2 separate regions of the Homo sapiens genome follow, and region 1 is linked to region 2. Evidence: fine-mapped expression QTL. A gene starts in region 2. The other region holds a variant in brackets. All regions are shown on one strand. Distances are between the middles of the regions. Region 1 overlaps GALM (galactose mutarotase). Region 2 holds the start of HNRNPLL (heterogeneous nuclear ribonucleoprotein L like).

The links. PIP is the estimated chance that this variant, and not a neighbour inherited with it, causes the effect.
Region 1: its variant is the best candidate, but not a certain one, in a credible set for the expression of HNRNPLL in blood mononuclear cells (TOPMed, PIP 0.77).

What each region holds. Positions count from the first base shown.
Region 1 is chr2:38,702,157-38,706,545 of GRCh38, forward strand. All of the region lies in intron 4 of GALM (galactose mutarotase), which reads left to right. All of the region lies in intron 1 of LOC124905993 (a long non-coding RNA gene), which reads right to left. Among named protein-coding and RNA genes, the nearest start is that of GALM, 38 kb to the left of the region's middle. The variant G/A (reference allele first, on the strand shown) is at 1,855.
Region 2 is chr2:38,601,150-38,605,525 of GRCh38, forward strand. HNRNPLL (heterogeneous nuclear ribonucleoprotein L like) reads right to left here and starts at 1,779. Exons shown (of 13, transcript NM_138394.4): 1 at 1,289-1,779. The coding sequence starts at 1,477. RefSeq lists silencers at 1,499-1,598, 1,619-1,668, 1,889-1,958.

The DNA.
Region 1 (4,389 bases), 100 kb after region 2:
TCTGGACAACTGCACTCTAACACCTAACTGGAAAAAAAAAAATCTTAAGATCTATCTTCCATGTAAAAGCATCTATCTAAAATGCAAATCTTACTTTGATAATCTCCAGGTTAATAAACCTCTTAGACGGCTCTCAGGCCTCCCCAAAACCATCTCTCATTTCACTGATCAAAAAAATAAAAATTTAAAAATTTTAAAACTTAAAAAAAAAATTGAACATTTCACTGGTCAAAAAACAAAAACAAAAATGATCTCCGAGCATGCCTCCCTCACACCCCACCCTGCTGTGCATCCCTTTCCCACCCCCAGCCTACAGAGACCACCCAATAACCTCTTCTTTGCTACATGACCCTTACCCTCCTTCTTCAAGAGTCATACTTTCTCCTTAGAAACTTTTCCCCCCACTTTCTGGAAACTGTAGATTCTTTCTTGCTTATGGTTTTTGTAATGACATCAGCCATTTAGAATTCATGATGTGGCCAGTCTCTGCTATCTGCCTCTCCACAGAGCTTGCTCAGATAATCCATCAGGATTTAGTCACAGATCCAAAGTAGGGAGCTAGAAGGGAGCTTCAGGCTTGGTCTCTTCGGGTTGAAGCTAGAAAACTAATCTATACTGAACACAAAAATGAAGCTGAGTAATAGCCAACCTATACATCCTAGGAATTAACTATTGCTTATTTTGCCCCCAGCCAGTCTCTCCACACTCCTCTCTCCTTTACATTTGTTTTAAACACTATATATATATATACACTTTATTTATATATATATACTTTTTATATATATATATATATAATATGTGTAATTTTTTTTTTAATTAGCTGGGCATGGTGGGGTGTGCCTGTGATCCTAGCTACTCAGGAGGCTGGGAGGCTGAGGTGGGATGATATGTGGGATTTTATATATATATATATATATATATATATATATATATATATTTTTTTTTTTTTTTTTTTTTTTTTTTTTTTTGAGACAGAGTTTTGCTCTTGTTGCCCAGGCTGGATTGCAATGGTGCGATCTCAGCTCACCGCAACCTCTGCCTCCCAGGTTCAAGCGATTCTCCTGCCTCAGCCTCCCAAGTAGGTGGGATTACAGGTATGCACCACCATGCCTGGCTAATTTTGTATTTTTAGTAGAGACAGGTTTCTTCATGTTGGTCAGGCTGGTCTCTAATTCCCGACCTCAGGTGATCCACCCACCTTGGCCTCTCAAAATGCTGGGATTACAAGCGTGAGCCACCGCACCCAGCCTTAAACACGGTATATTAGCCCAACACTGTGTGAGAACTGGGATTCAGAAAACCAAGATATAGGTCTCCGTTCTGCCATCCACTAGCTATGCTATGAGTCAGCCATGAAAATTCTCTGGGCCTCATTGACTGAATCTGTAAAATCTGACTTGATGAGGATTATATTCATTGAACTCTGAGGTCCTGTCCATTTCTTACACCCTGATTCAAAGACCGCACAGAATCTCTAACCCAGATATTCTTAACTAGGGTTCTTGTATGTCTGGGAAGATGATGAAAGAACTTCAAGGGGATCATGAGCTCTTTAAATTCTATATAAAATCCAAGGCTGGGCGTGGTGGCTCACGCTTGTAATCCCAGCACTTTGGGAGGCTGAGGTGGGCAGATTGCCTGAGATCAGGAGTTCGAGACCAGCCTGGGCAACATGTTGAAACCCCCTCTCTGTGAAAATACAAAAACAATCAGCTGGGTGTGGTGGCATGTGCCTATAGTCCCGGCTACTCAGGAGGCTGAGGCACAAGAATTGCTTTGAACCCAGGAGGCAGAGGTTGCAGTAAGCCAAGATCGTGCCACTGTGCTCCAACCTGGGAGACAGGGAGAAACGCT[G/A]TCTCAAAAAATAAATGAATAAATAAATAAATAAATAAAATAAAATAAAATAAAATAAATTCTATGTAAAATCCTTTGTGAACTTGCTGCATCACCTTGGCCCACAAAGGGGGTTTTCTTATCTTTTTTCCTCTTTCAAAGTAATGATAGTCTATGGTTGCCCTACTATGTATTCTCTTTTTATTATTTTATTATTTTTTTTTTTAGAGACAGGGTCTCACTCTGTTATCCAGGCTGGAGTGCAGTGGTGCAATTATAGCTCACTGCAGCCTTGGCCTCCTGGGCTCACGCGGTCATCCCACCTCAGCCTCCTGCATAGCTAGGATCACAGGCATGCCCCCATCATGCTCAGCTAATTTAAAAAATATTTTTTTTGAGGCTGGGCACAGTGGTTCATGCCTTTAATCCCAGAACTTTGAGAGGCTAAGGCGGGAGGATTGATTGGGTCCAGGAGTTCAAGAACCTGAGAAATACAGAGAGACCCCATTTTTACTACAAAAAAATAGAATCAAAAAATTAGCCAGGCCCAGTGGCATTCACCTGTAGTCCCAGCTACTTATGAGGCTGAGGCAGAGGATTGCTTGAACCCAGGGGTTCAAGGCAAATTGAGCTATGATTGGGCACTGCACTTAGCTTTGGTGACACGGCAAGACTCTGTCTCCATTAAAAAAAAAAAAAGTAAGGCTACAGATAAGAAAGTACTTGGACAACAGTAAAAAAGTTAAACTCATGACATTGGACCCTATGAAATGTGTTTACCCTAGAGCTGTTTATTGTATGATAGGTCCCTGCTAGATAGTATTCAAGGTTTAATGCAAAAACTCCAAGGACCTCTCTTGGTAGCAGTGGTATTCTTTAAGACGGCACATTACTGAATCCTTCCTGTAAAATGGTCACAAGATCATTTTTATGAGCCTCTAGAATAACTCCTGAAGCTACTCATGCTCCCTACTGGAAAACACATTACTGTTACAAGATTGGCAAACATGAACCAGCATGGTAGAAATCTGGCAGGAAGAAAGCTCAAAATTTAGCACTTGGCCAGGCGATGTGTAATTCCTGTGAAAATTGCAGGCTAACAGTCAGTGAATTTGTCAGAAGGGGAATTATTTGCTAGAGCTCTGACCACCACCCTTGGAGAGTTGATGGTTCACATCTACCCTTCCTCCAGCCCAGGTCTGGACAAGGGCTGCCTCTAGTTCATTCCTGGTGCATAGCCATCCTTAGTGGTCACTACATTCTGAAGGGGCTTAGTGGGACTGTGGGCCTTGGGCAACGGACCTGATGTTAACTCAAGTAAGTTCCCAGAGCAGATTTGTATTCAGTTCAGCTAACATTTATAGAGCACCTACTGATTGCTACATGCTGCCTGAGAGATAAAGAGGATGGAACACTGTCTCTGCCCTTGAGAAGCTCAGAGGGATGGGGAGAACCTAATGTGGTCAGAGCAGTTGTAGAGATAATGCCTGTGGGACTGAAGGAGTGTAGAAGCCAGGGTAGAAAGAGGATTCTCAAGATTGTCCTGAGCTGTGAGAAGCCTCTCAGTGTCTGTGAGGATCTAGCCACAAGGAGAGTGAGAGTACCAAAGCACAGAATGCAGGAGTGGTGATGACTGTTAAGCCAATAAGCCAAAGAGACAGTTGGGCAGAGCAAGGGCTAGGGTGCAAAATTTAAGGCAGCATCCACTCCCAGGGTCGTGCATGTGCAGGGTCAGCACCTGAGAGTGTGTGTCTTCTTAAATTTTGCACCCTAGGCACCTCATTTGCCCAGCCCTACAGTTGGGTACAGTCATGATTGTCTTTCTGGGCCATGCCGATGAGCTGGGATTTTTTTTATTTTTTATTTTTGACGGAGTCTTGTGCTGTCGCCCAGGCTGGAGTGCAGTGGCGCAACCTCCCCCTCCGGGTTCAGTGGTCCAACTTCCCGCTCTGGGTTCAAGCTATTCTCCCACCTCAGCCTCCCGAGTAGCAGGGATTACAGGCGTGCACCACCACATCAGGCTGATTTTTTTTTGAGACAAAGTCTCACTCTGTTGCCCAAGCTGGAGTGCAGTGACACGATTTTGGCTCACTGCAACCTCCGCCTCCCAGGTTCAAGCGATTCTCCTGCTTTACCTCCCAAGTAGCTGGGATTACACGTGCCCGCCACCCTGCCCAGCTAATTTTTGTATTTTTAGGAGAGACGAGGTTTCACGATGTTGGCCAGGCTGGTCTTGAACTCCTGACCTCGTGATCCACCCACCTCTGCCTCCCAAAGTGCTGGGATTACAGGCGTGAGCCACCACACCCAGCTGGAATTTTAACTTTAGATCATGGAGGGCTTTCAAGCATTCTAAGCTGGGAACTGACCTGTCAAGATTGGCATTTTAGAAATCTCACCCCAGGTTGGGCGTGGTGGCTCACACCTGTAATCCCAGCACTTTGGGAGGTCGAGGCAGGTGGATTGCTTGAGCCCAGGAGTTCGAGACCAGCCTGGGCAACATATCGAGACCCCATCTCTACAAAAAAAAAAAAAAAAAAATTAGCCAGGTGCGGT
Region 2 (4,376 bases):
GAATATTTCAAATAGCTCGGCACAAAAATCTAAAGTAATAGCTAACACCGTAACAAGACTGAGAGAAAAAGTTCCTTTTTTAAATGTGTTGCAAAGTTTGCTCTCACATCCTGGTAACTGGAAACTGCAACGCTGGGTGACTGACCAGCCTTTTTTTTTATTATTTAAAAATTCAAACGGCTATAAAGGGCTTCTAATGTGCGTCTTATTTTTAAAAGGTAAGGTAAAAACCCTTTTAACCTAATAGTAGGATATATGTGTACAGTTTCGTAATTCTGTTAAAGTTTGCAGAATTAATCACAATTCATGTGTTAAATGTTTAAATAACATCTAAGTCATTAAAACCGCTTAAGTGCACCAAAAAAGGGCAATAACGTTTGCTCCGCTTTGTTTCCTTAAAGTCTCCATCCAACTGAAGCTAACTACTTGCTGTGGACAAAATGATCACATTCCTTCTGCCTCCCCCTAACATTTCTGGTAAGAGAAAGACCTGGCTCTAGGAATGTGTGTTTAATGCAACCCTGAGCTCACTTCATCCTTTCATGGGGCAAATGTGGAATAAATTACCAATGAAAAACTTTAGTAATTTTAAGATTTGTTTTACTTGAAGGTAGGGGTGTACCAACAGCTGCCAACACTTCTGTTGAAGTGTTGTAACCGAAGAGGTAAAAAGTGTACTGAGTAATCCACAAAATTGGGTAGAGCAAAGGATGCACGCCATGCTTATAAAGAGTTTAATTTTAAAATTTTTTAAATTAAACCTTCAAGGGAACTAGCATGTGAACGCCAAGGCATAATCTGTTATTTAATTACGGGTCTCCATAGGACCGAGGCGGAGAGAGCTCCCGGTAGAACCGACGCAACCATCCCGGGATGGTGACCAACGCGCGGCTGCTGCGGGCAGAGGGACTGAAGAGAACCGGTGGTCCCGACGCTGGCCCCGAGCCCGAGGAGTTAAACTAACAAAGAGCTCCCCGAGCCGCGAAACCCCCCAGAGCGGAAGCGACGCCTCCCCGCCGCCGCCGCCGCGCCGCGACCCTCCCCAAGTTCAGGGCCCGGCAGTGGACTCGCTGCGGGGCCTGCGGCCAGGACGGCGCCGGGTTCGCAGTCGGGATGCGGGAAACAGGTAGAGGCCAGAATACGAGCCCCAAAGAGAAGAGTGGGCGCTTCCCCAAACGGGTCGGCGCAGCGGAAAAGGCTAACTGAAGCAAGCGGGAGGCCCCGCACCGAGGCCCTGCTTCCCGGGGAGCAGCCAGGCACAGCGGACAGGGGGGCCGCGCTTTGTTACCGGCTGAGAGAAGCTCCGGCCGCCGCCGCCGCCATCGCCCCCGCCCCGGGGCGTCGCTTCCCGGCGGTTCTCGCCTTCCTCGGCCGAGTAGTCGATCTCCCCCTCCTCGGTCTTGAGACGCTTGGCCTGGCTCTCGTACTCCCGGTCCTCCTCGTACGTCTCCCTGGGGGAGGAAGAGGAGGAGGACATGGCGGCGGCCGGAGGGACCGGCTGGCAGGCGGGTGGGGGTGGCGGTGGGGCGCGCGCCTCGGATGCCGCCGGCCAGTCCTCGCCGCCGGCAGCGCCTCTTCTGCGAGGGTCTCCGCGGCCCGGCCGTCCGCGGGGACTGCGCGGCCAGGAGACTGGCGGCTGAGAAGCGCGGACGGACTGAGGGGGGCGCCCCGGGAGGAAGCTCTGGAGCGGCCGCTCCTCTCAATTACCGAGCCAACATTCAGCCTCTCCCTCCTCCTCCTCCGTCTCCGCTCCCTGCCCGGAGGAGCGAATCTAAGGATGGGGACGCAACCGTGGCTTCCGGTCTTCCCTCCTCCCCTAAGCCGCTCCCAGCCGCGCAGGCCGAGCCTCCGCCCCCGCCTTCGCGGCCGTCGCGCAGGATCGAATCCAGCCGCAGCCTGCGGGAAGCGCCCCCCCCGGCCCGGGTTCTGCTCCCTATTGGCAGGGGCGGGAAAGTCGACCGGGCTTCCCATTGGCTGTGAGGGCCGTTCGTCAAAAGCCGCCCGCTGCTCGACCTCACTTCTCTCCCCGCGCCTTCTGAACTCGCCGCGGTCCTGGGAGGCCCGGCGCGCAAGGCGCGCCGCCTGGGAGTAGTTGCGACCCGCAACCGTTGGCGCTATGCGGCTCCTACCCGAGGCCAGGCGTGGAGTGAACACGGACGAGCGACGAGAAGTGCGGAGAGGCTAGGGCTGCGGGTGTTAACCGCCCTGCCGCTAATTTAAATGCTTTTTATCACCTCTTAAAAAGAGAATGAGGAAAAAAACCTCTAAAATCCCTGCAGTCATACCCCCCGAAAAGCCCTAAAATTGCAGGCGATGAAGGGAGAAAACGGCTTGGAGCCATGAGAATGGTCTTTCCACTGTTTTGTGTGCAAAATCTGGTAGAAGTGGGCGGACCCTCCCGCCCCTAGCTGGGTGTTGGAGAACAGCTGTCAGCATTGACTGAAGGCTGCGAGGCGCGCGTCGGCAGGAGGCGCTGCACGCGGGCGCTCGTCGGTCTGATCGGTTATAACTCGTTTGTAACCTGGGCCCTTTACTGACTTGCCTGTCCCTGTAAGTCCCTGCTCCAGTTAAATATGTTTTAATCCTTCCATATAAAATCTCATCCTCCATCCCAATTCTTTCTCTTCTGGACAATGTATTTACTTCACTTGATCATTTATTGTCGAAAGATACAAAAGCCTTTCAAAGTTCTGTGATCACAGCTTGCTTCCTCTGTGGTGTCCTGAGGGCTTTTCCAAGATTTTAGTTGCTGCTCTCTTTTTGCAACAGGGCCCCTTATAACTCCCTCTTAAGATGTTCTGTTTTAAAAACTCTGTGAGCGCCTGAAGACAGGAACTGTGTGCAATTTTCATTTTCGCAAGCCCAGTTCCTGTGCGATCTCCAGCACAATTTAGGTGCTCAACAATGCTGAATGAGTAGTCCTTGGGAAATAAAGGTCCAGTGTATCTTTCAGGACAGAAACTGGCAAATCAAGGCAACCTAACTGCCCTCTGTCAGGTGCCTCTTGGAGGACTGCCTGAGATCAAGAGCCTCTTGTGTTTCTGTTGTCCTTGTCCCTCGGATGCTTTCCTAGATGTGGCTCTTCCTTTCCTAAGAGTGTAGATTGCTTCCTCCTCCAGCCTAGTTCTCTCCAAAGTTATTTCCTCCTCCAAAAAAGCTATTTTTATTTATTGCTGAGAGTGCTTTAACATAACACTTTTGTACTTTGTAAATTACACCGGCTGTCATTTTGGAATCTAATTGCAAGATTTTCCACACTATGCAGCTATAATCAAATGTGTGTGCGGCTGCAGGTATACATTGACAAAACAGAACTAAAAAAATTATAAATTTATTTTTTAAATTAAAATGGAAGTCGACAGAAGAAATAGCAAAAGAGTGGCAGAGCTGGCTGCGGATGAGAAAATGTCATTGGCAAAAAGCTCTGCAATGGTTTGGGAAAGTAAAATAGCAACAAGGGAAACAATGATACAATTCTGCTTAAAATATGTCCTATGGATTCATATGTCCCCTAACATATTCAGAATGCAGACATTACCTGGCCTTCAGAAAGCTGAAGATACCAAGGGTCAAAAAAAAGGTCTAACAAACCTACTTCACGTGTTATCTTTAGCATCCATTGTCCTTTTTATAGCAGTCTCAGTATCAAAGATCAGGAAAGGATGAGTGAATTAATAAACTTGATACAAAGGAAACTTCTTTGATGAGGTGAGATGGGCCATTCTCAAGATATTTTTAGTTTGCTCAAATTAAAAGAGAAGAGCTGAGAGCTTAAAACAATTATTTTTTAGGAGAAAGAAAACAATAGAATATTATGTGAAATAATTGAGTGTGATGAGAAGCACTAAATATCTTTTTGTTAAGTATGAGCAACTACCTGTTAATTTTGTTTTATGTACATTTTCATATGCTAGGTGAATTTAGTTTGGTAAATTCTATTCACTCACAACTGGATTTACTAGGCCTTATACAAACTTTCCAAATATTTCTTGTGAAGATGCAAATATTTTAAATTCTCAAAGCCCTGCATTCAACCTATGGATTATACCACATTACAATGCAACTGTCACACCAATGGGTAAGGAAATCCAGCCTTGCCAAACCTAGGGCTGCTGTGCTCAGCGTTCACAAACAGCAGGTGGAATTCAATATGTACCAGTATTAAACTTTGTTCTTTTTGTAAGTAGCCCAGTTGAGTAAAAAAAAAAATATTGAGGGAGTAAAACTTAGAAAGCATTTTTAAAGGACACCAATCAGTTCGTTAACCATGGGTGAAATGCGAGCTTGTTGCAGATGAGTTGTTCAGACAGTGACAGTAGGTCCTTTGATAAGGAAAATACTAGCTAGCTCATCACCAGGGCATGAGGAGCTAAAGA